2 linked regions of the Homo sapiens genome follow. The protein of the gene in region 1 interacts with the protein of each later gene in a pairwise test. Each region holds a gene or a part of one and is shown on either strand. Other genes may lie near its edges. The genes, in order: FAM43A and GTF2H2C.

Region 1 (16,471 bases):
GATTTCATCACTCTTGGCTTCCTTCTAGTGCCCTTGCATTTCTGCCTGGATCTCCAAAGCCTATGTTCTTTGTGTTTGGGTCAGGCGAGGGCCTGACTCCTGATGGCAGGTTGTCCATCAGAACAACTACCTTCTGCATGGACCATTTTCTTCCTCTGGACCGCTCTCTCCTGCCTCTGTCTACGGCAATCTGCCCATCCTTCCATGCTTAGCATGAAGTCCGCTTCCTTCCTAAAGAGGGCCCTGGCCTGGGCACTGTTTGACTACACGTTATTTCTCCTGCAATGGGAAATGGGCTACCAGACTCTCAGAGACCCAAGTGCGAACCTCGTCCAAGGTTCCAAGCAAGCAGCCCATGAAAGGAGAGGCTCCAAGGCAAGGGGCATGGTGAGAACACTTCTGGGAGCTTTGGTCACAGGGTGACCTCCAGAGTTCGTAGACCTCTGACTTGTCTGTTGGTTCTCTCTCACTCCTGCAATTTCCTGTCATGGGCTCTGTTTTGATCTTTTGTCTTTTATATTTATTTATTTATTTATTTTCAGCGCGCTTTGTTGGAAACATGGCTTCTGTTTTGAGTTAATGGTGTCCCTTACAAAGACATGATCAGGCCTGGTGGCTCATGCCTGTATGTAATCCCAGCATTTTGGGAGGCTGAGGTGGGAGGATTACTTGAGCCCAGGAGGTCGAGGTTGTGGTGAGCTATGATAGTGCCACTGCACTCCAGCCTGGGCAACAGAGCGAGACCTAACCCCTAGTACTTGTGGATGTGCTTTTATTTGGAAAAAGGTCTTTTTTTTTGAGATGAGGTTTCACTATGTTGTGCAGGCTTGGTCTCAACCTCCTGGGCTCAAATGACCCTTCTGCCTGGGCCTCCTGAATATTGGGATTACAGGCATGAGCCACTCACTGTACCAGGTTTGGAAAAGGGTGTTTGCAGATGTAATCAAGTGAAGATGAACTCATACTGGATTAGACGGGCCCTAATCCAGTAACTACTGTTTTAGAAAGAGAAACATTTGGCTGCATATGCAGAAGACAAAGAAGGAGAGGCCAGAGGCAGAGACTGGAGCAATATGTCTAAAAAACAAGGAACGCCAAGGATGACAGGCAGCCATCAGAAGGCAGTAAGATGCAAGGAAGGATGCTGCCTTCTCCCAACCTCCAAAATTGTGAGGATACATTGTTGTTGTTTTCAGCCACCTCATTTATGGTAATCTGTTATGGCAGCTGCAGGAAATACCTGCAGCTTTCTTGTGATCTTAGAAATGAATGAGGATTTGCTCAGCTCCCCAATAGGCAGAGAAGGGCAGCAGCGTGCTCCGGGACCCTCGGTGAGTCAGGGCTGGAGGGCGGGGGTCTGGATTCCTTCTTGGCCAATCTTGTGTACCTGAGCCTTGGCTCTGATCGTGGCATGTCCCTGCTCTAGCACCTCCAGTGACTCACCACAGCTTATGAGACGCCTCCTCCTGCCATTCAGGGCCATCAGGAGTCAGGCCCTGGCCTGACCCAAACACAAAGAACACAGGCTTTGGAGATCTTGGGCAAATTTCTTAACTCCTCCAAGCTGTGGTCCTTTCCCCCGGAAAAATGAAGAGACTAGCACAGACCTGACAACACTCTTAGGAGCATGAAATGTTTGGACGGATCTGACTCAGCACAGTGTCTGACATGCGGTAGGGGCTCAGTGCTTTTGCATTCCCTCCTTTTGCCCAGTTGTTGGATGTTCAACACTAACTACCTTCTGCATGGGCCATTTTCTTCCTCTGGACCGCTCTCTCCTGCCTCTGTTGACAGCAATCTGCCCCTCCTTCCATGCTTAGCATGAAGTCCACTTCCTTCCTAAAGAGGGCCCTGGTCTGGGCACTGTTTGACTACAAGTTATTTCTCCTGCAATGGGAAATGGGCTACCAGACTCTCAGAGACCCAAGTGCGATGTCGACCACAACAGAGACCCGTCTCACTGGTGGAGTCCTGTGACAGTCATGCTTGACTCTAACGTCTTTGGGGGCAGTGAGAGCCATTAGCAAAGTGCACTTTTCATTAAGGGGCCCAGCGAGTGGCCACTCAGTCAAGTCACAGAAGTATGTTTGGCTTTCTGCTCCTGTTCAGATCATCAAATGAACCTGTGAGCCCCCAAGCAGCTCTTCCTAGAGGGGGAGCAAACGAAGGACGTGGGTTCTACATACATATATGTGTTTAGAAGCTTTTGGCTTTACGTTTAGCCACAGGAAAGGGCCCTGGATTGAGATTCAGACCACATGGATCCTCATATTGGTGTGGCCACTAAGTTACTGTATGGCCATGCACCTGCGCTGTCAGGGCCTCAGTGTCCTCATTTGTAAAGCCAGGGGAGGTTGACTAGATTATCTCGAAGGGCCTTCCAGACAACGCTCTTCCAGTTCTGACAGTCTGTGCTCATGACAGTCCCATGACTTTGAAAATAAACACATGGTTAATGTTCGTTCTAGAAACACTTGCCATACATTAATTTGGTGGCTGGCATTGTGCTGGAAGTTGGGGATACAAAGAGTGAATAAAATACAGTCACCAGCCATAAGGAGCCCATAGTCTACTGGGGGAGACAGAGAGTTAAAGACGATACTATAGGCCAGGCACGGTGGCTCGCGCCTGTAATCCCAGCATGTTGGGAGGCCGAGGTGGGCAGATCACAAGGTCAGGAGTTCGAGACCAGCCTGGCCTTGGTGAAACCTCGTCTCTACTTAAAAAATACAAAAATTAGCCAGACGCGCTTTTGCGCACCTGTAATCCCAGCTACTCAGGAGGCTGAGGCAGGAGAATCACTTGAACCTAGGAGGCAGAGGTTGCAGCCGGCCGAGATTGTGCCGTTGCACTCCAGCCTGGGCAACAGAGACTCCATCTCAAAAAAAAAAAAAAATTAGCCGGGCATGGTGGTGGGTGCCTGTAATCCCAGCTACTCAAGGGGCTGAGGCAGGAGAATCACTTGAACCTGGCAGGCAGAGGTTGCAGTGAGCCAAGATCACGCACTCCAGCCTGGGCAACACAGCAAGACTCAAAAAAAGACAATATTATAACAGGGCAAGTGCAGAGGTAAGGATGCACACAAGGGCATGTGGAGAGGCGATGAGTAGGCCTAGGCGGTTTACCTGGAGAAAATGGTATCCAAGATGGCTCTGTAAGAATGAGTAAGCCTTGGCCGGGACAAATGGCAGGAGGAGGTCATATCAGTTAGATAGAGCCACATAAGGCATGGCAGGAAGGGAAAAACCACTCTCATGAGCATGGGGAGAAGCATAGGCTATTCTCTGTGGCTGGTTCATAAATTAGGAGTCCAGGAGAAAAGAATGAGGTTGGAGACATAGGCAGGTGCCAGACCTGAACATTCTCATGTGTTATACTGAGGAGTGGGAGTGTACCGTGTGGCTGATGGGAAGCCATTTTGAAGGTTAAAAGGGGAAGAGAGAAAAGGTCAGAGGTGTGGTTTGGTAAGTATTGAAGGTGGCTTTCAGAGGGGCAGGTTGAAGGGAGGAGAGACTTCGGAGCCTGGAGGAGGGAGGTGGGCTTGGGTGTGGACGTGCTTTTTGTAGGTTGGCAGGGGCTGGAGGTTGCTCTAACTGCCTCGTTTTTGTGGGGGAAGCACCCGGTCAGTTCTGCTGAGCTCTGGGGGAGCCAGTGGCTTTGGGAAACTAGTGAGGACTTAGCGTATGTGTTGAGGAGAGTGGGAGAGGGAAGAGAGTCAGGATAAGGGAAAAGATGGCTGGATGGGAGGTGTACTGCTGCTGGAACAAACTGCCACGAACGTAGTGGCCTAAATCAACACAAATTCACAGCGCTGCAGGTTAGAACCCAACACGGGCCTCACTGGGCTAAAACCAAGGTGTCTGATAGCCACCTTAAAGAAGCAAAAAGAAATAGGTAAGTTTTTGTTGTTGTTGTTGTTTTTTGAGACAGACTCTCGCTCTGTCGCCCAGGCAGGAGCGCAGTGGCACAATCTCGGCTCACTGCAACTTCTGCCTCCCAGGTTCAAGTGATTCTCCTGCCTCAGCCTCCCGAATAGCTGGTATTATAGGCATGCACCACTATGCCTAGCTAATGTTTGTATTTTTAGTAGAGACGGGGTTTCACCATGTTGACCAGGCTAGAGAAATAGGTAAAATTAATCTGAATAATTTATTTAAATCAACATAGCCAAAATACTATCATTCAATATATAATGAATATAACATTATGAAGATTTTTTGCATTCTTTTTGTTTTACTAAGTCCTGAAAATCCAGTGTGTAGTTCATACTCGTAGTGCGTCTAAATTTGGGCCAGCTATGGTTCAAGTGGCAGCAGCAGCCTGTGGCTGGTGACTGCGTACTGGGCCGCACAGGCTGCAATGCTCTCCCCCATCTCTTTGCAGGTTCATCTCATTCCTGTCTCTGCCCAGAGCCACCTTCCCTGGCCATGCTGTCTAAACCAGCCACCTCTCACTCCTAGCACTGCCTCCTTTTCTCCAGAGACTTTTCACTATCTGCTATTTCATTAGTTTTTTGTTTACTGTCTGCCCTCCTGCCTCCACCAGAGGCTATAAATCCCATGCAGGCAAAGACCTCTCTATCTGTCCTCTTTAGTGCTATATCCCCAGCAACTATGTGACATTCATGGGAGACTCTCCACAAGTATTTACTAGATGACATTGAAGATTCCAGATTCGTCATGTGTCATCTCTGAAGTCAATGTCCACTGAGTAGGATGTTGGAGGAGGGGCGAGAGGAAGGAGCATTATGTAAGACGTAAGGTGGGAGGAAGCTGGTCCAAATCCTCTGTGAGATGAAAGGCTTACTCCTGGATGTCAAGTTTAGGGCTGGGACTCCTGATGGCAGCATTTCCTTCCAACTGCGACCCGGTTGTGTGTAGTTTCAACCACTAGCTTATCTGGTTTGACGAGAAACCATCCACCGAGCAGCATTTCTGCCTGCTACCAGTAGATGGGGGCAGTGTCATTAAAAAAGTACACTGCAGTTTCTAACCTGTTTCCCAGCTCCACTTTGCTGACAGTCTGTTCTGGAGTTGCCCTGTCTCAGATCTGTGATGTGGACTCCCACATGGTGCTGCCAGCTCTCCCAGCTGAAGAAACGCAGCCTTAATTGTGATGTGTGCTTCAGGTGGGGTGGTCAGCTTCTCCATAAGGTGAGGCGGGCCCTAGAGGCTGGCACAGGTCCAGGCCACAAGGGGACCGCGGGTTCTCCTCCAGGGCATGACTCACACCAGGGTGTTCACACTGGCCTAGAACCTTTCTGTTCTCCCAAGGTTGGAAACAAGCTTATTAGGAAGGCGGTCAAGGCGTGACATAGCCTCGTCAACAGGAGCAGCTCTGTGGGCCTGTGCCGCTGGGACTGGCACTCCGGCTGCTGCTGAACAGCCCGGCCCACCAGTAGACTCCTCCCTGCCTCTGTGGGCCACTGGGGTCCATGCCACTGCATGAAGTGCAAAGTGGTGCCTCTCGCTGAGGCTGAGACCAGCCTTAGCTCCTGCTACTACTCCCTCTTCCTCTTCCCCAAACCCTCTTGAGCCTTGGAACTTTGAGCGATTTGGAAATGATCACTGCTTAAACATGATGTCTGCTTTTGTGGAGTTCAAGATTATGGACCTACTAAAGGTCACTGAACACAGCCTCATTTGATATGTTTTTACCAGAGTTTTTGTTCTTTAGAGCGTGTGCTATCTCCTTCATTGCCACTACAAGATAGCCTAGAAATTTAAGGAATTAATGTTGCCTTAAATGGCTTATTATAGTACTAACTACCTCATTCCAACAGCATGTCTGGTATCCCTCCATTAACCCATCAGTGCAGCTGAGGAGTAAGGCATTATAGCTCTGGTTGAAGGACCCTGTGGGGCCAGTTAGCCATGAAGAGGCCATTCCTTCCCTTGGAGTGTAAGAGAGCCAAAAAACACAATCAGGAAGGTTTATTCTTTGATTGTTACAAGCTCCATCTTAATTACTACATGTGTATGCATTTTCTTTCTTTCTTTCTTTCTTTTTTTTTGAGACGGTCTCACTGTGTCATCCAGGCTGGAGTGCAGTGGCGCGATCTCGGCTTACTGCAACCTCCGCCTCCCGGGTTCAAGGGATTCTCCTGCCTCAACTTCCCAAGTAGCTGGAATTACAGGCGTGCACCACCATGCCCAGCTAATTTTTGTATTTTTAGTAGAGATAGAGTTTTGCCATGTTGGCCAGGCTGGTCTTGAACTCCTGACCTCAAGTGATCCACCCGCCTCAGCCTCCCAAAATGCTGGGATTACAGGCGTGAGCCACCGCGCCTGGCCTTATGCATGCATTTTCATGCTTCTGTAATTTTGCTACCCTCTATACCCATAAAGCCCTTCAGTCTTTTCCTATTTGGATAAATTCTGTTTATCTTTCAAAGGTCACCACCTCCATGAAGCCTTTTCTGATTTTCCTAGTCACAATGAATGCTTTCTTCCTCCAGCTTCTCATAGTGCTTTGAGTCTTTCTCATAGCATTTAGCCCACTCTGTCTTCTTGTCCACATGCATATCTTGCTCATTAATTCTAGTTACTGAGTGCCTATTTGTACCATATTGGGGATACAGGGTACTTGCAGAGAACCCACAGTCCAGTGGAAACCCAGAGTTGGGTAGAGTTTACAACCTTCATTGGACTAGGAGGCAGGAATCCCGTCTGCTCCTAGCTCAGGGCCGGGCACCAAAAGGTAGTCAGAAAAGTAACTTAAATGGAAACTCAGCAAAGTAACTTAAATGGAAACTCAGCATCAACGACTCTGAGAAAATTGAGTTAGATTTCAAAGGAAGGTTAAAAGTTGGCAAAGGTAGAGGGTGGGCAGGGGTCAGTTTTATTTTGTTGGAATATCCCAAGGGAATTTCCAGGTATGGTTGCAGTGACTCTGGCATGAAGACCTGGCGTGGAAGCCAGAGACATCAAAGATCCCCAGGGGACTGGGATGGTGGGAAGGGATCACTGTCCTCCTCCAGGACCAGGCTGGGAGTTTGATGCAGGATCATTCGGACATTGATCCCACTCCAGCCATACGTCTTTTTGCTTTGACTGACCATACCATAGAGGCAAGCAGGCTGTTTCAAGGGCCCAGAAATGAGTTACTGGCTAAGGGTCAAGCCGGTCAGAAGACAACTACACTGTCCAGTTGGCACATGATAAAAGCAATACTGATGCAATTATCACTCCCATTGGAGGGTGGCCTGGCATTATTTGTCACTTAAATAAAAAACGTCATTTGAATTTTTACTAGGAATTCTCATCCAAAATATGTCAATGATAGAATGAAACCGCATGACCGGCTTGCCAAAGTAAACTAAGTCCTAACGACACACGAGCATTAGAAATTGTGTGTATCTCAGAAAACTGCTCTACCCTGAGGCCTGACAGCAGGAGGGGGTCTTGCCGGGGTTCGGACGGGGAAAAGCCTTATTCATTGACGGTATTCTACAGTAGTCACCCCAATCATGTTACCACTCACCTCACTTTACACTGTCTGCTGCTTACCTGTGAATACGAGCTCAAGATAGTGAGAGATAAGCCTTGGTGTTTTCTGTGCCTCTCTCTTTTCTTTAATGGAATACAATTCTGAAAATAATATTAAACAGCACCCAGTCATTCTCAGAAAGCCGTCACACAAGGAAGAAACCACTATTTTCCCAAACTTTTTGTACAGGAAATTATAATCTGTAATCTCATCTTCTGCCACCTCCCTCAGAAGTTTCGATCTAGACATACATGTATTCAGTGAGTGGCAATTCAGCCTGGGGGGTGGAGTGTCAGGATTCAAATCTTTTTGCTGCGGGGTAACCCCAGGTCCCAGTGATTTCCATAGACAAAAGAGATGCTGGTAAATTTGGGATGTAATTGGAGGATTGGACCGGTCTCCCCGCTCCCTCGACCAATGGCTGTCACGCGGTCCCTTTAAGAAACCAGGAATCCGCCCGGAGTCGGAGCCCAAAACAGATCCTCTTCTCTGCTCCTCCCCTGTCCCCGCGCGGCGAATGGTTCGCGCCGGCCTATATTTACCCGAGATCTTCCTCCCGGACGGCAAGGATGTGAGGCAGGCGAGCCGGACGCCGCTCGCAGCACCGGAGAGGGCGCACTGCAAAGGCGGGCAGCAGACCGTGGAGAGCCCGGGAGCGGAGCTGGACACCGCCTCGGAGGGAAGAAATGAGGTAGCGGCGGTTCCCGGACCCGGCCATGCCCGTCCCCTGTTCTCGGAGCCCAGCGCCGTCTCGGCCAGGCCAGCCCGGACACTGAGCGGGCCGAGCGCGAGTCCCCGGCGTCCGGCGGAGCGAAGATGCAGTGAGTCCCCGCGGGACTGCTGCGCGGGGCCCGCCGCGGCCAGCCGGACCCAGCATCCGACCGCACTTTGGGCGAGCTGCTGACTTGAGACCAGCCCAAACGGGGGGCTTTCCATCTCCAGCACCCCTCGGAGGTGGGGAGCACCGGCCCCTAGGCACACTCGCTGTAGAGTTTCCGCGGGTTTTGGCCCCAGTCCTGAGGGTTGTGTGTGTTAGGGGACCCACCTCACGTTCGCCGAGGAGTTCCTGCATATTCTTGCACCATCCCGGGTGCTGTTGCTGGGGCTCTCTTTATTTGCACGCGCGCTTCTAGCTTTTTTCCTGACATTTTCCACTCTACGCTCGTTCTTTCTCCCTTGCATTTTGTTGCTTGCCTGAGACTCTTTGCTCTCGCCCTTGCCCAGGCTGGGGTAATTCTGTGTGCGCGCGTGTCTCCCCCGCACCAACCTTTTTTGCACACTCGAAGCTGAATATTTTCTTTTTTAGAGAATTTACCCGCACCTCCTGCGGGGTTCCTAAGCACTCTCTCTGCTCCCCTCCCCCCAACTCCCTACCACAGGGCCGCTCCCAGTAGTTTTATTCTTCGATCTTGCCCGGGCCGAGCCTGGCAGGGGCCGGTGGCTCAGCGGGCCTCGCACCCGGCGCTCCGCCGCCGCCGCCGCCCAGCTGCGCCGGGGCGCCCTCCGGAGATGCTGCCGTGGAAGAAGCACAAGTTCGAGCTGCTGGCCGAGGCGCCGCCGCGGCAGGCGTCCAAGCCCAAGGGCTACGCTGTGAGCCTGCACTACTCGGCGCTCAGCTCGCTGGCGCGGGCGTGCCCCGAAGGCGCGCTTAGCCGGGTGGGCAGCATGTTCCGCTCCAAGCGCAAGAAGCTGCACATCACTAGCGAGGACCCAACTTACACCGTGCTCTACCTGGGCAATGCCACCACCATCCAGGCGCGCGGCGACGGCTGCACCGACCTTGCTGTGGGCAAGATCTGGAGCAAGAGCGAGGCGGGCCGTCAGGGCACCAAGATGAAGCTGACGGTGAGTGCGCAGGGTATCCGCATGGTGCACGCCGAGGAGCGCGCGCTGCGCCGCCCGGGCCACCTCTACCTGCTGCACCGCGTCACCTACTGCGTGGCCGACGCGCGGCTGCCCAAGGTCTTCGCCTGGGTGTACCGGCACGAGCTGAAGCACAAGGCCGTGATGCTGCGCTGCCACGCCGTGCTGGTGTCCAAGCCCGAAAAGGCGCAGGCCATGGCCCTGCTGCTCTACCAGACGTCGGCCAACGCGCTGGCGGAATTTAAACGCCTCAAGCGGCGGGACGACGCGCGTCACCAGCAGCAGGAGCTGGTGGGCGCACACACCATCCCGCTAGTGCCGCTGCGCAAGCTGCTCCTACACGGACCCTGCTGCTATAAACCGCCGGTGGAGCGCAGCCGCAGCGCGCCCAAGCTTGGCTCCATCACCGAGGACCTGCTCGGCGAACAGCTGGAGCAGGAGCTGCAGGAGGAAGAGGAAGAGGAGCAACCCGAGGGCTGCCCGGAGGAGGAGGAGAACCGTGCGGCAGAGGGAGATCCAGCAGAGGAGGAGGCCGAGGCGCAGCGTGCGCTAGTGGTCGCCATGCACTTTGAGTGCGGGGACTTGTTGGATACTCTGGAGAATGGCCGTGGGGAGGCGCTAGGAGGCGGCGGGGGCTCCCTGGGCCCGGGGGCCGGGCCGCCGCCTCTGCTGCTGGGCAGCGCCTCCGACATGAAGGCTGAGCTGTCGCAACTTATTAGCGACCTGGGCGAGCTCAGCTTCGGCAACGACGTGCGCACCCTGCAGGCCGACTTGCGGGTGACGCGCCTGCTGTCAGGCGACAGCACGGGCAGCGAGAGCTCCATCGAGGGCGGGGGCCCTGACGCCACCTCCGCCACCGCCGGGGACTCGTCCCGCCAGGCCGACGGCGCCAGTGCAGACGAGCCCCACTCGGGCTGAGCTCCTCCGCGCGTCGCCGGCGCTCCACCGTGGCTACCCATCCGTGGTCCCGACAACCTCCCTGTCCCTTGCCCGCCCCCAGGAAGGGGGAAATGGGGCATTTGGGGCCCAGACCTACACTTGGAGCCCAGGTCCAGCGTTCCCCCGACCGCTTTCCCCTACCTCCCGGCCCCCGCTCCCGCCCCAGCACTTTTGGCTCTGTTGCGCGTGGGGATGCGGGGAGATTTGAGAGGGGAAAACCCCGCCAGGAGGGAGAGAGAGGCACCCCTCTGGGATGCGGGTGAGGGAAGGTTGGCTGAAGTTCCTAGTCTCAGGCCGTAGGTGCCTGGCCAGTTTCCTGTTTGTGGGGCAGCTGGGGCCTGAGGAGGAGGGGTTCACTTCCTCCTCCCACCCCCTGGGAGCGGCCCTGCGCTGTCACTGACATCTCATTAAAAAAAAAAAAAAATTTGCTCTCAAGGTGTTTGAGGCTTTAATGCAACCCTTTAGCCCTTGGTTCTTTTTGGTGCAAGAATTCTGGCTGTTTACCTCAGACTCAGACCCCTGAAATGTTGCCAAATTCTTCAAATAACTGTTTGGGGGGTGGGGGGAGATGAAAGAGAGTCGCGTTTTGTTTACAGTTAAAGACATCCAATATCTTAAAAAGGAGTTTTCCTTTAGAAACACACACACCCTTCCTCTTGCTCAAAAGATCTCACTCCATGATACTGTGTAAAATATTTTTGCACTGTTGTGAAGTATTTTTGACTTTTTTCTGTACATAACTGTGTTCTCAGAGCTGAATGTTTATATCTTTTGCTGTGCAAAAGAAACATGTAAAATGTTGTTCAGTTGTATATACAGAAATGTGTATAAAACATTTTGTTATTTTTTAAAAGTAGCACTGTTCTGGTTCTGTTTGCACGCCAGTGGGGAGAGAATAAAGAGGAAAATTTAACAGAACAGGTGAGCGTCTGGAACTGCTGCGTTGGGGTGGGAGAGGCTGTGTCTGACCCTGGGATGGTGTCATAAGACAGTCTTTGGCCTTTCCTGTGCTTGGAGAGAATTAGGGAAGGAAGGTCCACTTTATGCGCCATCTGGGGCCTTCCTGGACCTCCACAACTCTGGGTGCTGTGTCTGGGACCAGCCTTTTCTTGTATTATCCTGTATTTTTCAGTAATTAAGTTGTGTGATCTTTTTCTGGTCTTTTGGAGAGGCCACGGTGAGTTCCATATCGCACTCCCAGACCTGTGAGGTTATTTATGGAGGAGTGACTTCCAGATCTGCTGAGATTTTACTACCTCCTTCTGTGGGCCATGCTAATAATCAAGCGTAAGGAGACTACCTTATCTTTTCCTTTACAAACAGCTCAGGGAGCTTTAAAGATGAACTAGAAACCCAAAGAGGAGTTCTCTGAGGAGTGGGGCCATCTCTGTTTTTCCTGGGAGGAAAACCAAGGAGAGAAAAGTTGACAAGTTCCGATCCTGGTGTGAGTGAGTCACGGTGCAGGTGGGTGGGTGGCTGGGCAGGCTGCAGAGCCCATTTCCTTCCCTTCTACAACCCAGTGTGACCCAGTTGGGGGATGGCGCGAAGGTCGAGGGGGAGAGGAGCTGTTAGAGCGCGGTATGGGTGTGCATGTTTCAGCGCTTTCATGCTTTCTGTGTGTTTGTTTCTGTTGTAAACTCCAAACAGATGTCTCTAGTTTGGCTACACCCGATCAGCTGGAAGTTGTAATAAGATGCTGCCAAAACTGTGCCTTCTGCAAATTATATTTTCCTTTTGCCCCTTGAGGCCTCTCTTCCTGTGTTGCAGAAATGGATCTCACTCCTGGCCTTCCCTGGTGTCCTGAGGCCACTTTGCTTTGTTTTCATCATAAATATGTTCTGAGCAGCTAGACCCAGAAATCCTAAGGAGTCTGGAATTCACTGGAACCATAGAGGAAAGAGGGGTGAAAGATTTTCTTCCTAATTAACAGGAATGGTTCAGGCATAGAACTATCTTTAAAAAAGAAAAGCAAAGGGGGCGAGTGGAAAATATGTGTGTGTGTGTGTGTGTGTGTGTGTGTGTGTATATATATATATATTTTTTTTTTTTTTTTGAGACGGAGTTTCACTCTTGTCACCCAGGCTGGAGTGCAATGGTGCAATCTCAGCTCACCGCAACCTCCACCTCCCGGGTTCAAGCGATTCTCCTGCCTCAGCCTCCCAAGTAGCTGGGATTACAGGCATGCGCCACCACGCCGGGCTAATTTTGTATTTTTAGTAGAGATGGGGTTTCTCCATGTTGGTCAGGCTGGTTTCAAACTCCCGACCTCAGGTGATCTGCCCACCTTAGCCTACCAAAGTGCTGGCATTACAGGCGTGAGCCACTGTACCCAGCTGAGTGGAAAACATTTAAAAAAAATTCAGTCTTAAGGGCCTTAGGACGTCCAGGCCTTTGAATCTATTATATTTTGGCTTGGTTGTGCGTCCCGATCCCTCTCCCTGAATACCTCAGATACACATCATTGAATGACATTAAAAACCCCAGCTAGAGAGAGGTCAGGAAAGTCCAGTCTCAGCCCAGCCACCCATCCCAGCCCTTCCACACCAGTGTGCTCACCTGATAAGCAGACGGCTGTGTGGGCCATCACTAGCCTGCGTGACTAGATTTCACATTTGAAATTATTCCCATGCATAGCCAAGTTCCTCTGCTGTTTGAAACTGATGAAGAGATGAGACAGAGTGAAGATAATATGGCTAATACTTGGGAGACAGGGCAGGGTCTGTGTGTCTTCATTCTTATCTAGTTTAAGTGTCCTGTGAGAATGCCAATGTTGGCTTTCATCTGTGACTGACAGGCATGTGGTGGTTGGTCCAAAAGTTCAGGCAAATAGTGTTGAAACCAACACCATCAATAAATATAAAGCAGCCATCTCTTTAAAGTCTGATATTTCCTCTCATGTGATTTATAAATAGGAAGGGGGGCTTGAAGGTTGAGGAGGAGGAAGAAGAAAATAAGCAGGCTGGAAAGAGCCAGCTCCCTTCCTCCTCCGTCTGTGCCCTCCCCATCTCTCCTTCCTCCCCTCTGCTTTTTGGCATCGATCCCCACTGCACCTCAGAGCTCTGACTGATGTAATTCTAGAAGAGATGTGAAGGTGACACGTGATTCACCTCTTCTGACTTCTCAGTCTTCCAGGGATGATATCACTAGAGTAAGAAGAGATGTTTTGAATGAAAATAAAAGAAAGACCCTAAAACTACTTTGCTCCTGGAGCTCAGAGGGAAAAGAATGGAGCGACAAAAGCAAAGCTAAGTCATTAGATAAAATACACCTTCCAGAAAACACCTGAAGTCTGGTTTACTCATCAAATTTAGCTTTTCTTTCCTGCAAAGTGAGGCTCATGTTTCTCCATGACTTAACCTGATGGTACTTTAAATGCACTGAGACACTTTCCACGTTCTTTCCCAGCCTAGGTAATCCTCCGTGTTCAACAATGCAGCATCGACTGCATGAAAAACAGGGTGACTCCCGGCGGCACGCGGTCCTCCAGGGGTGGCAGCGTGAGTCTGGGAGGAGGCATTCATCGACTCCTCACAGCACAAACATCCCATGTTCACTTCTACCATTTGTCGCATATGTAAGCAGGAAGGTGGGAGGAATAAAATGGCATAAAATAAACAATAGTATTTCATACCCTCCCAACTATGACAGCTTCAGAGAACCCCCTCCACACACACGTGTGTGGACACACATGGTTTCCCTAAAGAAACACCTCTCACTGCCCCACAGTCAGCAGAACAGATTTTAACCAAATTAGAAAGGCTCTGTTATACTAAGAAAGCACAATTCCCTCCCAGGGGACAGAGCTGTTTTTGAGGGTTCTGCTTGTGAGTAGAGAGAGAACTGGTTGGAAGAATCTACCCCTGGCACCATACTGGAGATTTAAAAATCTCATTGTAGTTGCCAAGGATCACGAGAAACATAGAAATTCTATTAGGAGCAAGTTGCCGTCTTTTTAAACAGGATTTAGTAATTTAATAAGCAGAACTCTTTCCTCTGTGTGGTATGCATCAGTAGTCCCAGCATCTGCTGCTAAGTGATGCATGACAGAGCTAGAAATGTGCACGGACTGCTGGGGTAGGAGCCATGACTGACACATGGGGAACTACTCAGGGCTCCAGGCAGCCAGGAGGGTGCTAGGCCCAGGGCGCTCTGCACTCTCTGCTCCAGGCTTGTTGCACATGTCCACTGTCTTAGTCCGTTTCGTGTTGCTATAAAGAATACCTGAGGCTGGGTAATTTATTTATATTTATTGATTTATTTATTTTGAGACAGAGTTTCACTCTTGTTGCCCAGGCTAGAGTGCAATAGCATGACCTTGGCTCACCACAACCTCCATCTCCCGGGTTCAAGCGATTCTCCTGCCTCAGCCTCCCGAGTAGCTGGGAATATAGGTGCCCTCCACCTCACCCGGCTAATTTTGTGCTTTTTTTTTTTTTTAGTAGAAACAGGGTTTCACCATGTTGGTCAGGCTGGTCTTGAGCTCCTGACCTCAAGTGATCCACCCGCCTTGGCCTCCCGAAGTGCTGGGATTACAGGCATGAGCCACCATGCCTGGCAAGGCTGGGTAATTTATAAAGGAAAGAGGTTTATTTGGCTCAAGGTTCTGCAGGCTGTACAAGAAGTGTGGTGCCAGCTTCTGCTCTGGTGAGGCCTCAGGCTGCTTGCACTCATGGCGGGAGGTGAACTGGAGCAGGAATCAAATGGCAAGAGGAAGGAAGCAAGAGATAGGGAGAAGGGCAGTGCCAGGCTCTTTTGGACAACCTGCTCTCGAGTGAGAGAGAAATCACTCATTGCCTCCGTCTCCCCACAGGGAGAGCATTAACCTATTCATAAGGGATCCACCTCCATGACCCAAATACCTCCCATTAGGCCCCACCTCCAACACTGGGATCAAATTTCAAGAAGAGATTTGGGGGAACAAATATCCAAACTACAGCGGCCACACCTGGATCTGGCTTGACCAGTAGCCGGGGCCGTTTCTGTTCCTTCTGGCTCACCCCTGTTCGTAGGCCCAGTGTCCCCTAGACCAAACCCCCACTGCTTGCTCTAAAGCTCTTGTGACCCAGTTTGAGCGCCTTGACTAACCATCGTCTTGGTGGTTTGAATGGTGAGAAGATGGCCCTGGAACTTGGCACTCCTTCCTTCCTCTTTCTTGAGCTGCTCAGTGGTACCAGAAAAGGACCTTGTTTCTAACCCTCCATGGGGAGTGACATTTCTGAAGGCCTCCTCTTCTCCCCTCCTCTTCATCTCTACCCCTTCCTCCTTCTCCAGTTCACACCTCATTCCCCTATGGCACAGCTCCCCATCTGAATTTCTCCTTTCCACAAACCTAGCTGATATCTTATATTGCCTGAAAGAAAAGATAGCCCAGGCTTTAAAGGAAAAGCAAACCAAGCACAGAGGCATCAGCCAGCACCAATCCTGCAACTCCAGGGCATGCTAAGGGACCAAGACCCACGGGTCCAAACTCCTAGACTGATGCGCTTTTAATAGGCCTCCAGTTATTTTATTTTATTTTTTTGAGACAGAGTCTTTCTCTGTCACCCAGGCTAGAGTGCAGTGGTATGATCTTCACTCACTGCAGCCTCTGCCTCTGGGGTTCAAGTGATTCTCCTGCGTCAGCCTCCAAGTAGCTGGGATTAGAGGCGTACACCACCACGCCCAGCTATGTTTTTAAATTTTTAGTAGAGGCGAGGTTTCGCTATGTTGGCCAGGCTGGTCTCGAACTCCTGACCCCAAGCGACCCGCCGGCCTTGGCCTCCTAAAGTACTAGGATTACAGGCGTGAGCCACTGCACCCAGCCTAGGCCTCCAGTTTTTCTGGCATATAAATAAATTGTTCCCTTTGGGATGGCAGAAACTGGCATTTGGATTTCCCCTTACTTTCCCCCTTATTTGTACTCCCACATTTCATACATGGTAGCTGCTTGATGAGAACTATTTCTGACATTGTTCAGCAACCCCCCCCCCACCCCCTACTCCCCAGACCAAGTGTGAATGAATATGTACTAGATGCATGACGCTGGAGGTAAAGAGGCCGGGGGTCTGTCTTCCTGGGGAGAATGCTGCCGGTGGGTGGGGTGCAGCCCCCAGGGGAACTTCGTCTTCTTTTGCTCCCACCCTTGGTATCTGGTGTGGTGAGACCCCATCCTAGAAGAGTGGATCTAGTTTGTGGGTGGAGA
Region 2 (15,503 bases), on another chromosome or scaffold:
AACACAATGCATCACGTTTTTCCTTGCTTTGCTTTCCCTTTTCTTCCACACTCTCACCCCCCTAGATCTGTCCCTCCCTAATAAAGTAACAATACTTTCATCTTTGCCTCAGGTTCTACTTCCTAGGGGACCTAAGTTAAGAAATTCTTGTTGTTGACCAGGCGTGGTGGCTCACGCCTGTAATCCCAGCACTTTGGGAGGCCAAGGCAGATGGATCATGAGGTCAGGAGATCGAGACCATCCTGGCTAACACAGTGAAACCCCGTCTCCAGTAAAAATACAAAAAATTAGCCAGGCGTGGTGGCAGGCACCTGCAGTCCCAGCTACTCGGGAGGCTGAGGCAGGAGAATGGCATGAACCCGGGAGGTGGAGCTTGCAGTGAGCTGAGATCGCGCCACTGCACTCCAGCCTGGGCGACAGAGCGAGACTCTGTCTCAAAAAAAAAAAAAAAAATTCTTCTTGTTGTAATTTATTGTTGTTGCAATTTTTGTTTGTTGTAATTTCTAGGGTAACCACTGAAAGAATAAAAACAAAGTATACAATTTTCAAACTAGTGACGAAAAACATAGAATGGTAGAAAGTAAGTAATCAAAAAGAAGGCAAGAAGGAAAAGATCGTATCAAATATGTAGTTAAAAAAATTTAAAAAAACGAAAGATGGAATTGTTGGAACCAATAACACAAAGATAATAGACTTAAACCCAAATATATCAGTGGTAATCTTTTAATAAATATTTATATTTATTATATATATTTATATATTTTAATATATAATATATTAAAATATATATTATATATAAATATATATAAATATATAAATATAAATATAAATAATATATTTATAAATATAATATTTATAATAAAATATATCAGTGGTAATCTTTTAATAAGTAAATATATTTATTAAATATAAAAGGTACACAGTAAATATAAATGAACTAAATGCTTTAGTTAAAAGACAATAAAAATTATGAAATAAAAATGTATACACTTGAAAGTATTTAAAATAAATCTAATTTTCATAATGAATTTTAAGCATTAAGGAGTTTTGTAACTGAATAGTGGAACTCAGAAAGACATCCTATTCAGAAGGATCTCTCATGATAATAGTTTCCTTCACTATTGTAGTATACTGTAGAGTTTCAAGAAAAAAATTAAAGGCCAAAACTGTCTTACATTACCATTGCTGTTTCTGCAATCTTCAACAAACCAAAATTTTCTCTGTAATTGTGAAAAAAGAACTCCTCCTTAAGCATAACTAAAATTTTGCCTTAACCTTATCAAATACCCAAAACTGTAGAAAGAGATAAAGCTGTTAATAGAGACATGGGTATCCCTTTTTATCAGGTCAGGAGGGTAAGTCTCTAATAGAGAGTTCTAGTAACTTCTCAAAAGGTAACTAATGAAGGCCTTCCTTCTAAACCAGATAGGGGGAGATAGAATGCTCTGAGTATTAAAGGCATCTCCTGCAAGCCACTGATACCTTTGTTGACAGAGCACACAGAAGAAAATAGCAGTTACCAGGTTACCTATAGGTGAAATTTGTTTCCACATAAAGAACCACTGGGTCCAGGCTCATGGAGTATGACTCCTGAGAGAAACTCCCGTTACTCTGATCAGTGTGTGTGTGTGTGTGTGTGTGTGTGTGTGTGTGTGTGTGTATTAAAAATGAATATTCCTGGGCTCCCAATAAACTCTCCAGGGTGGGATTACGTTGTCTTTACTGATAATGTTCTTAACTAAAAATTCTTAGTTATAAAATCACAAATTTCGGCCGGGCACGGTGGCGGAGGTGGGTGGATGACCTGAGGTCAGGAGTTGGAGATCAGCCTGATCAACAAGGTGAAACCCCGTCTCTACCAAAAATGCAAAAATTAGCCAGGCGTGGTGGCAGGCGCCTGTAGTCCCAGCTACTCAGGAGGCTGAGACAGGAGAATGGCTTGAGCCTGGGAGGCGGAGGTTGCAGTGAGCCAACAGCAGGCCACTGCACTCCAGCCTGGGCGATGGAGCAAGACTCCATCTCAAAAAAAAAAAAAAAAAAATCACAAATTTCATAGTGAAACTCAAGTTAGAGTACCTGAAGTTTATATACATAAAATAGACATACCTTTGCTATGAAAGCCTGATTTACTCTTTTTTTTTTTTTTTTTTTTTTTTTTCTTGAGACAGAGTCTAGCTCTGTCGCCCAGGCTGGAGTGCAGTGGAGCGATCTCGGTTCACTGCAAGCTCCGCCTCCTGGGTTCACACCATTCTCCTGCCCCAGCCTTCCGAATAGCTGGGACTACAGGCGCCCGCCACCAGGCCCAGCTAATTTTTTGTATGTTTAGTAGAGACGGGGTTTCACCGTGTTAGCCAGGATGGTCTCGATCTCCTGACCTCGTGATCTGCCCGCCTCGGCCTCCCAAAGTGCTAGGATTACAGGCGTGAGCCACCGCGCCCGGCTGAAAGCCTGATTTACTCTTAACTGGATATAACCAGAAAGAGTTCTGCCCACAATGATATATCTGCATTGAATCTAAAACACAGACTTCATCATACATTCTCACCTAAATTTCTCTGATGACCCAGAGTAAGGCAAAAGGTTTAGCATATGAGAGTGAAAGGATTTGAATCTCACTTTCTGTCAAACTTTAGAGCTCTGTTAACCATGGTTAGTATCAACTATGATTTTAGGCAACTTTGCTTATAGTAAAAATAACTCGTTAATTGTTACGTATCTGGATTGGGATGCACTATAAATAAATGGAGTCTTCAAGCTTTAGGCTTTCCTGAGTGTAGTGACTCTTGAAATTGACACATCCCTTGTGGATACCTGGAAGCTGTGTTTATGGAATTGTTAAGAGATATTGGTTCCTTGATGCCTGTGGAGGATCTTATCTCCTTGCACCCAAATTGTACTAGTGGACTGCTACAAGGACTTCCACTGCTAATGAGGACTGCTTGATGCTGTGCTGGCAGGCTGTTGTTTCTGTTTAATATCCTTCTGAGTAAGCGGGTACCAAGTATGGCCATGGCAGTCTTGTGAGTTTGAATGTTTAATGTAAAGTGACTTCTGTTGGTCATAGCCACAAATAATTTCAGATGTACTAACTTGATAAACATATTCCAGATGTTTGGTTAAACCTAAAAAGACCTCTCTGGTGGATGTAGCAGTACATCATTTCATATGTATTAATTTCATAACTTTTTTTTTTTTTGAGAGGGAGTCTTACTCTAGGGTGGAGTGCAGTGGCACAATCTCGGCTCACTGCAACCTCCGCCTCCTGGGTTCAAGCGATTCTCCTGCCTCAGCCTCCCAAGTAGCTGGGACTCCAGGCGTGAACCACCATGCCCGGCTAATTATTTTTTGTATTTTTAGTAGTGACGGGGTTTCACCATGTTGGCCAGGCTGGTCTCGAACTCCTGACCTCAAGTGATCTGCCCACCTCAGCCTCCCAAAGTGTTGGGATTACAGGTGTGAGCCACAGCGCCCAGCCTAATTTCATAAGTATTGATAAATTTTCATCTTACACTGAATTTACATTCAGACTTAACTTTCTTCTTACACTAAATTAATGAATTAACATAAATCATAAAGATTCTATATTTAATTATAAAAACATAAAATTATCACATCAATTTAATTCTTATAAGTTTATACATACTGCATAATGACTTTGAAAACAGTATAACTCAAAATAATAGAAAACAAAATTAATTGAATGAAGTACTACTGAATTTCAGGTATTTCTGTGACAACACAAATTTAAAATTTAATAAAATATTACCTTTTCTTAGCAAAAAGTTTCTTAAGTCAGATTATCCTTTCATGTTTTAAATGAAGCTTCTTCTAAAGAAGTCCTTTTATTCACAGTTGCAAATTTCTTTTTAACACATACAATGTATACTACATGCTGGAATCAAACACCTGAAGGAGCTGGAATCTTATGAATACAGCCAGGGCAACAGTGTAGAGAATCATGAACAAAAACATCACAGTCCACACAGAAAACATTTTGGCACACAGCACAAACATAAACCTGTAGTGAAAAGAAGAAAAGTGATAAACTAGTTTCCAAAAGTTAATTACAGCACAGCTAGATGACATTCAAGGTGTGCTTTGCTCTTTTATATCTCTACCAATTTTTTCCCACTACCTACTTTATTACTTCCAATGTACTCTATATTCTCAAATCTAAGGCAATTAATTTTTTCCCCAAAACTATCCCTTAGAAATGAGGGAATGGTTTTGTTTTTGAGTCTTTAAAGTCTATTCTATTACAGTTCGCTCTCAATTATTTCATTCTAAGGTTTAGGAAAGACATATGAGCTTCAAACCAGCGCTACTTTTGAATGCTTAGCAAGACCACCTGATTGATTCAATTAAAAAGAGAAGCATAAAAATTTAACATCGATTTAATTATTCTTAGGGAATGACCTCACAATTGCAAACATATTTCCCTTTCAAGTAAACCTTTAAAAAAATATGTCAAATGACACAGATAAGACAAGCAGAAAGGAAAAAACTACATTTGTTCTTTCAGCATTACATATATGAGTACTTGCTCCTTGGGATAAAATTTCCAGGGCAGCTTCATACACAGATTCAAAAATCACTAAATCTCAGAAGTATTTGGCTTTGAATAAAAAAAAAAAAAAAGAATGAATAAATAAATTTCAAACAACACAGACAATGACCTATTCTTAAAAACTCAAATGAGGCCGGGTGTAGTGACTCACGCCTGTAATCCCAGCACTTTGGGAGGCCAAGGCGGGTGGATTGCTTGAGCCCAGGAGTTCAGGACCAGCTGGTCAACATGGTGAAACCCAGTCTCTACTAAAAATACAAAAATTGGCTGGGCATGGTGGTGCACGCCTATAATCCCAGCTGCTTGGGAGGCTAGGCATGAGAATCACTTGAACTTGGGAGGCAGAGGTTGCAGTGAGCCAAGATTGCATCACTGCACTACAACCTGGGTGACAGAGCAAGAGTCTGTCTCAGAAAATAAAACCAAAAAACTGTCAAATGATTCAAAAAGTGGTTCCAGTTAAGAGTAAACTACTGATGTCAAAGAGGTATATAAAATTTAATAAAATTACTTTATAAATTGTGACAGTGGAAGAGCAATACTTCTAATTATTATTTTATATAATATATATAGTTTTAAATATGAACATGTAACTAAATTAAAAATTAAAGCTAGACAGTGATCCATATTATTTACATCTATACAAATTTATTTATTAAAGTTGGCCCTCTTCAAAATTTAAAAAAGTATTTTCTCATTGGCATAATGGAAGAATCACCTATTATCTGTGGCCACCTTAAACAATTTCAATGTGTTATCACACAGCTTAAAGTATAATATGAAGAAAATATTTTAAATACTTTCAGACTAAATGCAGTTTAGCTTGAAAGCTAAAGACAAATTACATGTTTTACAAGGGTGTACCAAAGTAGACAAAACAATCAAAGAATTTAAAAAAAGAGGAAAAAAATTAAAAAATTTTTAATAAAAAGTTTTAAAAAGATGAATTACAAAATACTTTATAGCAAAAATTAGAATGCAGAATAACAAAACTACTATTTAAACTATTTTGTTCCTATTTTACCTTCACCTATTGTCATTATCTTTACAAGAAATAAACTGATATGAGCCTGGTCTTTAACAACCTGTTGAAAACTTATAGTACCATTGATTTCAATATTTCTTGTACATTACTTAATATTTAGAAAGCCAAAGAACTTACATGTTGGTCTTTCAATTCCCCCTGACATCCATAACAAAATCTGAAAAAAAAGTTTAACAATGTTTTTTCTTAGAATTTACTCATTAAAATAGTTCAACAAAATCTCACTAACTAGAATCCTTTAATTAATATGTACTTGTCTTTACACATGACTTTCAGGAAAAAGAGTTAAGAATACCAATAGGCCAGGCACAGTGGCTCACGCCTATAATCCCAGCACTTTGGGAGGCCGAGGCGGGTGGATCACCTCAGGTCAGGAGTTCGTGACCAGCCTGGCCAACGTGGCGAAACCCCGTCTCTACTAAAAATACAAAAATTAGCTGGGCGTGATGGCAGGCGCCTATAATCCCAGCTACTCAGGAGGCTGACGCAGGAGAATCGCTTGAACCCAGGACACGGAGGTTGCAGTGAGCCGAGATGGTGTCATTGCACTCCACACTGAGCAACGGGAGCAAAACTCTGACTCACAAAAAAAAAAAAAAAAAAAAAAAAGAATAGCAATAATTTAAAAAAAAATTCCACAGTATATACAAGGTCATCTGACAGCCCAAAATTTAGTTTTTATTTTCATTAAGGTTAACTGTGAGCATGCTTTATTTTTCTTTGTTTTCGAGTCAGGGTCTTGCTTTGTCTCAAAGGCTGGAGTGCTGAGGTGCTATCACAGCTCACTGCAGCCTCAACCTCCTGGGCTCAAGTGATCCTCCTGCCTCAGCCTCCTGAGTAGCTGGGACTACAGGCATGTATCTCCATGCCTGGCTAATTTTTTATTGAGGCAGGGTCTCGCTATATTGCCCAGGCTGGTCTCGAATGCCTGGGCTCAAGCAATCCTCCTATCTTGGCTTCCCAAAGTGTTAGGATTACAGGCATGAGCCACCATGCCCAGCCAGAAGCACTTTCTAACGTTTGTTTGATAGTCACTTATTCTAATAAGTGCTACTTTGTGATTCTTCACAGTTATTGGCTATAAATCTCCAACTATGAAAGAAGAGAATTTAATTATCTTTCAATCATCTTGAACCCAGTAATGCATAAATATTTAACTAGTGTCATTCTCAATTCTTTCTACATAGTGAAGTCTTCCTTTTGGATAGAACAATAATCAATGTTTAGTTTACTATGCCTATAAAAATATTCTCAGCTAAGCCATAAGTTTTCCCCTATTTAAAACATTTTTTTTTTCCTGGAAATACTGTGTTGCTATTCCCAAGGTTAGTTTCCTATATAATTGACACTAATTCAGGCCCAATCTTCTCCGGAATAGTCTAACTGTCCTCTCGATATGTTCAAATACATCAGGAGTTCTGCAGTTTTCATCCCCTTGGTGATCTCTCTCCTGGAGCATCCTGACTGTCTCCAAACTGGACGGTTCCCCATATGTGACACACAGGTATCATTCTGGAATTTCTCCTTACCATCATCCTAGGCCGTTCTTCAGCCTGTTTTGAATTAGATACATATTACTAGATCCCATGTCATTCTCCTTCTCAGTTCCTTTGAATCACCTACCTCTTCCAGACCTTCCCCAGAAAAATCTCTTTTTGAGACCTTACAAGTCTGAAAATGTCTTTATTCTACCTACACTTAACTGATAGTTTGGCTGGGTATCTAAGTTGGTAACAATTTTCACCACAAACTTTGAAGGTGACTGCTCCCTCTCTGCATCCGGTGTTGCTAATGAGAAGCCAAACAATTTTAATTCCAGATCCTTTGTGTGTGACCTAGTTTTTCCTCTCTGGAAATGTTTAGGGTTAATGGTTTATTGTGTATTCTGAAATTTCACAATTATGGGGTCTGCCTTCCTTCAATACGTTAGGCACTTGGCAGTCCCTTTCTTTTATCTTCGTTGCAGAGATGAGGTCTTGCTGTGTGACCCAGGCTGGCCTGGAACTCCTGGCCTCCAGTTATCCCCCAGTCTCAGCCTCCCAAAGTGCAAGGATTAGAGCTATGAGCCACCCTTCCCAGCCAACAGGCCCTTTCAATCTAGAAAGTTCTGTCCTTCAATATAAAATTTCTTTGAACTATGTCTTTGATGATTTTCTATCCTACTTTTTTTCTTTTTTTCTCGTATCATTCTCATATTGGACCTTCTGGATAATTCCACCAGTATTCTTATCTTTACTCTCCTATTTGAACCTCTTTATTTTACTCCTTTTATTGTACTTTCTGGAATATTTCTTCAACTCTATCTTCTATAGTACTGGGTTTTTCATTTTTACTACATTTAACCTCAACCATAAGCAAATAAATACCAAGCTAAAACAATGAGACTTTTTTCTTTTTCTTTTGCCTGTGAGTTTTGGCCAATATAAAAAAGTTTCATAATACCTAATGTTGGCTAAATGTGGGAAAACAATAAATGAAACTTCTTTGAAGAACAACTTTACAATATCTATCAAAATTCACAAAACATGTAAAACTCTTGACTCAGTAATTTTACCTCTAGGAATTTACCATGCATTTATACTTGTACAAATGTTCAAAAATATAGATATAAGCATTATTTGTTAATAGCAAAAAAAGAAAATCTTAAATATCCAACAGGAAGCAATTGATTATATAAACCATAATTATACCTGAAATATGCAACAATTTCAAAAACAACATTGATCTAGATATGGTGATATTGAATGACTTCTAAATGACTTAAGTGTGAAAAGCAAGATGGATACATAATTGTTTTTGGCTAGCCAGTAAGTGTTTAATGTGATTCCTAAATCCTGGATGTTCTTTTTTTTTTTGATGGAGTTTCGCTCTTGTCGCCCAGCTGGAGTGCAATGGTGTGATCTTGGCTCACTGCAACCTCCACCTCCCAGGTTCAAGGGATTCTCCTGCCTCAGCCTCCTGAGTAGCTGGGGATTACAGGCACCTCCCACCACACCCGGCTAATTTTTATATTGTTAGTAGAGACGGTGTTTCACCATGTTGACCAGGCTGGTCTCGAACTGCTGACCTCAGGTGACCCACCTGCCTCGGTCTCCCAAAGTGCTGGGATTACAGGCGTCAGCCACCGTGCCAGCCGATCCTAGATGTTCTTAAAAGTAGTAAATCTTTATTTTCTGAAAACTATTCTCTAAAGGATTGACTACCTCTATTTCAGACCTTATTTGTTGTATTTCACACAAATAGCATTCGTAAAAATACTTAAAGATTTTAGATAAATTATGTTATGCCAGATTTTTTTTTTTTTGAGACGAAGTTTCGCTCTTGTTACCCAGGCTGGAGTGCAGTGGTGCGATCTTGGCTCACCGCAACCTCTGCCTCTCGAGTTCAAGCGATTCTCCTGCCTCAGCCTCCCGAGTAGCTGGGATTACAGGTATGCACCACCATACTAGGCTAATTTTGTATTTTTAGTAGAGATGGGGTTTCTCCATGTCATTCAGGCTGGTGTTGAACTCCTGACCTCAGGTGATCTGCCTGCCTTGGCCTCCAAAAGTGCTGGGATTACAGGTATGAGCCACCATGTCCAGCTTTTTTTTTCTTTTTTAAGAGACAGTGTCTCACTATGTTGCCCCAGCTAGTCTTCAACTCCTGGCCTCAAGTGATCCTCCCACCTCAGCCTCCCAAAGTGCTGAATGAGCCTCTTATTTTCAGTAGTGTGCTAGGACTGGATTGTACTGGATCAAAAGGATATATTGTTAAATATGTATTCAAGAAAGCTGGTTGTTAATTGTAGCTAAAAATTGGCCATGGTGGGAGTATTCAAACCATGGAAATCAGCAAATACTACCAATCAGGGCTTTTTTTCTTTTCCTTCTGGAAAACTGATTTAGTAGTACAATCATCACCCCTATTTATACATAGGTGGGTTTAGTGAAATTATTTGGTTTCTGGAGATTCAGATCTATTTAGCAACGAGTCATTTCAATCATAACTATGGCATTCTTTATCTCATCTTCCATATTAGAAGTACTCTTGTCCAAGTTAATCAGATTATTTTTTAAGGTAGTAACAATCTATTCAAACATTAGCTTACCACTTATAACAGATATAAATTAGTCCAAACTGAAATACCTTTCTCCATTATATTCTTCTAGGGGAATTTCTTGAAAAGCATCCAAAGGAAACAAATGATGGTAAGACCGTGCCAAGTGGGGAGCAGACACCAAAGTAAGACCTAACACATTAAGCAGAGAGACATGTTGAGTAGTCCAAACCTCATGAAGACAACGGCTGAAAAGCCAAAAGATGTAACTTCAGCAGAATATGTTCAGTTTCTTTTAGGATGGCAGTTATTAATTTTACCTGTGGCTATAACAGAAGATTGTAGGATGGAGTCTTAGTTCTGTCACTAAGTGTGTAACCAACCTGTCTCGGTCTATTTGCTTACTTATATTATAAATGAAATAAAATTCGACAATTCTATTAGTTTAATTCTTCATTCTTATATATATTTACTTTATAAAGGTAAGAGATGGAAAAATGTCTACTACATCTACTGCACTGCCTTTAAAGAATATACTTTTTTCAGAAAGAGGATCAGGAAACTAGAATGCTACATTTATACGTGGAAGTGGAGTACTGGGCACTCAATTTAAAAAGTAATCTATTTTTCTTTGCACAGATTAAATCCAGAAACATAGGAATAACTTAACATTTACATTAATTTTAGCAGCAATACAGATTAAGAAGTCATTCAAGATTTACTGAATAATGAATAGTTGTTTTCTTACCACAGATTTTACATTCAACAGGTAGCTCACAGTACTTTGCCCGACACTGTGGGCAGAAATAGCCTCCTAATGTAAGCCCTGGCTCAGTATTGCCATCCAAATGCCTGTAGGGGGAAAAAGGGTAATATATAATGATCTGAAAAGTTAGAGCGGGAAAGCATGCTATCTTGACCTTAAAATCTTGACACTATTTAAAAATCTATTTAAAAGTCTGTATTTTTGGCCGGGCGCAGAGGCTCACACCTGTAATCCCAGCACTTTGGGAGGCCAAGGCGGGTGGATCACCTGAGGTCAGGAGTTCAAGACCAGCCTGGCCAACACGGTGAAGCCCCATCTCTACTAAAAAATACAAAAATTAGCCAGGCGCCTGTAATCCCAGCTACTTGGGAGGCTGAAGTAGAATTGCTTGAACCCAGGAGGCAGAGGTTGCAGTGAGCTGAGATTGCACCACTGCACTCCAGCCCGGGTGCCAAGAGTGAAACTCCATCTCAAAAAAAAAACAAAAGAAGTCTATATTTAAAAAAAAAATTTATAACTTTTTGTAGAGATGGGGGTCTCTCACTATATTGCTGGTCTTGAATTCCTAGCCTCAAGTGATCCACCTGCCTTAGCTTCCCAAAGTGCTGGGATTATAGGTGTGAGCCACCATGCCTGGTCTAAAAGTCTATTTTAAAATCTGTGAGTATGTCTTATAACTCAATTATGCTACATTCATTTTTTTCCCCCTCTTCATTTTTTTTTTTTTTTTTTTGAGACGGATTCTCACTCTGTTGCCCAAGCTGGAGTGCAGTGGCACAATCTCAACTCACTACAATCTCCGCCTCCCAGGTTCAAGCAATTCTCGTGCCTTGGCTTCCTGAGTAGCTGGGATTACAGGCACGTGCTACCACACCCAGCTAATTTTTGTATTTTTAGTAGAGATGGGGTTTCATCATGTTGGCCAGGCTGGTCTCAAACTCCTGGTCTCAAGTGATCTGCCTGCCTCGGCCTCCCAAAGTGCTGGGATTACAGATGTGAGCCACTACACCCAGCCCTTCTCTTCATTTTTAAAGTCTCTATTACTATCTTTGAATTCACTAATTTTTTCTTCTGCAGTGTCTAATCTGCTGTTAATCCCAGCCAATATATTTTTCATCTAAAACACTGTATTCTTCATCACTAGAAGTTTGATTTGGGTCTTTTTTATACCTTCCATATCTCTTCTTACCATTCTCATGTTCTCTAACATCCTGAACATACAGAGTACATTTATAATTGTTGTCCTAACATCTTTGTCTACTAATTCTTTTTTTTCTTTTTTGATAAGAGTCTCGCTCTGTCACCCAGGCTGTAGTGAAATGGCACGATCTCAGCTCGCTGCAACCTTTACCTCCTGGGTTCAAGTCATTCTTGTACCTCAGCCTCCCAAGTAGCTGGGATTACAGGCGTGTGCCACCAGGCCTGGCTAATTTTTGTGTTTTTAGTAGAGATGGGTTTCGCCATGTTGGCTGTGCTGATCTCGAACTCCTGGGCTCAAGTGATCTGCCCACCTGAGCCTCCCAAAGTGCTAGCATTACAGGCATGAGCTACCGCACCCAACCCTTTGTCTATTAATTCTACCAACTGGGTTATTTCTGGGTATGTTTCCATTCTGTGATTTTTCTCCATTTTATGGGTCATATTTTCCTTTGCATCCCTGGTAATTTCTGCCAGGGACTATGAATTTTGCTTTGCCAGACATTGTGAATTTTGCTTTGTTTTGGGGGCTGGATTTTTTCTTTTTCTTTTTTTTTGTATTCCCTCAAATATTTAAGGGTTTGTTCTGAAATATACTTCATTAACTTGGAAATAGTTTAATCTCTTCAAAATTTGCTTTTAAACTTTGGTAGGCTGGTCTAGAACAGCTGTTAGTCTAGATTTTTCTTTTCTTTTCTTTTCTTTTTGCCTCTGGTTCCAGTTCTTGTGATAGAATTAATTTGATCCCATTACTGTGGACTCTATTCAATGCCTGTCATGTTAAGAGGTATTTCCATACAGACTGGTGAGAACATGAATGTTCTCTGTGTGAGCTCTGGAAACTGTTCTGTCTGCTGCTTTCCAGTGATTTTTTCCCTGACTTCCAGTAGTCTCCTCACACAAAAGGGCTGATCAACGCTCAGCTGCTGACTCATGAGCAAGTCTATGCAGCTCCCCAGAGAGTTCTCTCTGTGCAGATCTTTCCTCTCCAGTACTCTGACCTGCAAAATTATCGCCATCTCAGCCTCCTTGAAAGATGAACTTTGTTTCTTCAACTCAACAACATCTCCAGCCTCTGTGTGCAGCCTGGAAATTCCATCCAGGCAGTAAGGTGGAGTGCTCTTAGGGCCCATCTCATTTGTTTCCTTTCTTTCAGGGATCATTATCAGCAAGGCTTGCTGTCCAACGTCTGAAAACCACTGTTTTATATATTTTGTCTGCTTTTTTTGACAGGAGGGTAAATCTAGTCCCTGTTACAGCTTTTTGGCTGGAGGCAGAAATCTTGTTTGTGATTTTTAAGAATTACTCTCTTAAATTTAATTTTGTTTTATAATTATGTAAAATACAAAGCTCTGAAGTTAAAACAAGGTACAGTAATATTCTATATAACATTTTGGTCAGTGATGAACCACATATATGACAGTGGTCCCATAAAATAATACATTTTAGTTGTACCTTTTCTGTGTTTAGTTAAACAAACACTAGGTGTTACATTACAACTGCCTACATTATTCAGTACACAATATGCTGTACAGGTGTGCGGCCTAGGAGCAATAGGCTATACTATATAACTGCGATGTTAGTAGGCTACACTATCTAGGTTTGTGTAAGTGCACTCTGTGATGTTTGCACAATGATGGTATCACCTAATGACGCATTTCTCAGAATGTGTCCCTATCATTAAGTGATGCATTCAGAAAAGTCTAGGGTCTAACCCTTTGCTTTTCCCTACACACTCACTGAGGTAAACATTAAAAAAAAAAATTTCCCCCTCCACCCCTTTTAAGTTTTTATTATTTCCATACTATTGTTTTTATTATTAACATAAACAAGTATATACATCCACTTACATCTCTACTTTCTTCTTAGGTGATTAGCAGCATACTACAAAATTCTCTCAAACTACTGTTTTACTTAGTAATTTATCCTGAAGATCACTCCATACAAGTATATAGAGATAGTCTTCATTGCCTATCTTTTGAATTTATAACTTAAAAGAAGGAATTAAAAATGTAAAAACATTATTACTGATATTTTCAAGGTCTTTACTTACGCCATGCTGAAAGAGGGTTTTGCATCCTGGTCAGATAAAGAAGCAATGGTGTGCTGAGGAAATCCTTCATAGAAGAAAATGTATTACTTTCTTTTTCCAAGCAAACAGCAGAATTCTAGGACTAAGAACCTAAAAATGTTCTTCTCAAAAAGCCAATGAAGTTGTACAAAATATCACTTTACTGCCTTTCAGATAAGCTTATTATAGCATGATGAAACTGACTAATTCCAAGCTACAAGAAAAAGTAGAGGAAACGGGGGAAAGACCTGTCTATATATGACCTCAGATTCTGAAGTTCATATATATATTTTTCTTTTTTTTTTTTCTTGAGATGGAGTCTTGTTCTGTCACCCAGGCTGGGGTGCAGTGGCATGATCTTGGCTCACTGCATCCTCCACTGCCTGGGTTCAAGCGATTCTCCCACCTCACCTTCCCATGTAGCTGGGATTACAGGCATCTGCCACCATGCCCAGCTATATATTTTCTAACTTAATGATTAACACTACTTTTTAAAGAGGTTGTAATTTTTACATCATTTCTGATAAAACTGAAGATATCATAGTACACCTTCATTTTATCTACGTTTATGCTTTTATGTTTAAAATTTTGAAATGCTCAAATCTTTCATGTAATTTGTTTTCCATATACAATTTTAAATTCTGAAAACATGTTCAGGAAAAGCAGAAACCATTTTTAAAAAGATATATTACATAAAAAATGTAAATGTATCTACATATCAAAACAAATAAATAAAAGTAAAGGCAAATAACCAACAAGAAAAATATTTGCATCGGGTGACTGAGAAGGGTTAACATTCCTAAAGGACTCTAATAAATAAATTATAAATTTAAATAACTTTAAAATGAAATAAGAAAATATATCAGTAAATCAAAAAGATTAGCCAAACATAAGATCTAAAATATATTGAATGTTTACATCAAGCATTATTCTAAACGCATCATCTGTATTAACTCAATCCTTGAAACACACAATAAGGTTGATAGTTACTGACATCATTAAACACATGAGAAGACCGTGGAAAAGAGAGGTCGACTGGTAATATAAAAGGCCAAAAGTAGAAAAGCATTTTATTTCATTAACATTTAAAAACATACATATTAAATAAGGAGATTATTTTTCTATTAAAAGTTATACTTTTTTCAATCTAAATGTAATAAATTTTCATTGTAACATTTTTGTAAAATAGAAGAAAATAACATTTTAAAAAAGTGATCCAAGGCCGGGCACAGTGGCTCAAGCCTGTAATCCCAGCACTCTGGGAGGCCGAGGCGGGCGGATCATGAGGTCAGAAGTTCAAGACAAGCCTGGCCAACATGGTGAAACCCCGTCTCTACTAAAAATACAAAAATTAGCTGGGCATGGTGGTGCCCGCCTGTAATCCCAGCTACTCGGGAGGCTGAGGCAGGAGAATTGCTTGAACCTGGGAAGCGGAGGTTGCAGTGTGAGCTGAGATCGCACCACTGCACTTCCAGCCTAGGAAATAGAATGAGACTCCATCTCAAAAAAAAAAAGAAAAAAAAAAGTGATCCAAAACCAATAATTTCCCCTCCTTTGAGCAATTTGGTGTACTTCCCTGCAAGCTTTGTCTTTGCACAGTTTGTATTACACAGCTTTGATCATCCAGTACAGAGAATTTTGTAGCTTATTTTATTTTTATTTTATTTTATTTTTTTGAGACAGAGTCTTGCTCTGTCACCCAGACTGGAGTGCAGTGGCGCAATCTCAGCTCATGGCAACCTCCGTTTCCTGAGTTCAGGCAATTCTCCTGTCTCAACCTCCTGAGTAGCTGGGATTACAGATGTCTGCCACCATGCC

Evidence for each region.
Region 2: the proteins of FAM43A (region 1) and GTF2H2C interact in binary tests that used the Homo sapiens proteins (3 or more experiments, as listed by UniProt).

The regions. Positions count from the first base shown.
Region 1 is NC_000003.12:194,677,830-194,694,300, forward strand, and holds FAM43A (protein FAM43A), read left to right. Parts: upstream 1-8,424; 5' UTR 8,425-8,997; coding exon 8,998-10,269; 3' UTR 10,270-11,208; downstream 11,209-16,471. Other genes in the region: uncharacterized protein LOC124909474, read right to left, coding at 7,509-7,589, 8,031-8,424.
Region 2 is NC_000005.10:69,580,594-69,596,096, reverse strand, and holds the end of GTF2H2C (general transcription factor IIH subunit 2-like protein), read right to left. Parts: intron 13,732-15,503; coding exon 13,668-13,731; intron 10,504-13,667; coding exon 10,400-10,503; intron 9,844-10,399; coding exon 9,741-9,843; intron 5,770-9,740; coding exon 5,730-5,769; intron 4,019-5,729; coding exon 3,899-4,018; coding exon of another isoform or gene 3,886-3,898; 3' UTR 876-3,885; downstream 1-875. UniProt on the Homo sapiens protein: Component of the core-TFIIH basal transcription factor involved in nucleotide excision repair (NER) of DNA and, when complexed to CAK, in RNA transcription by RNA polymerase II.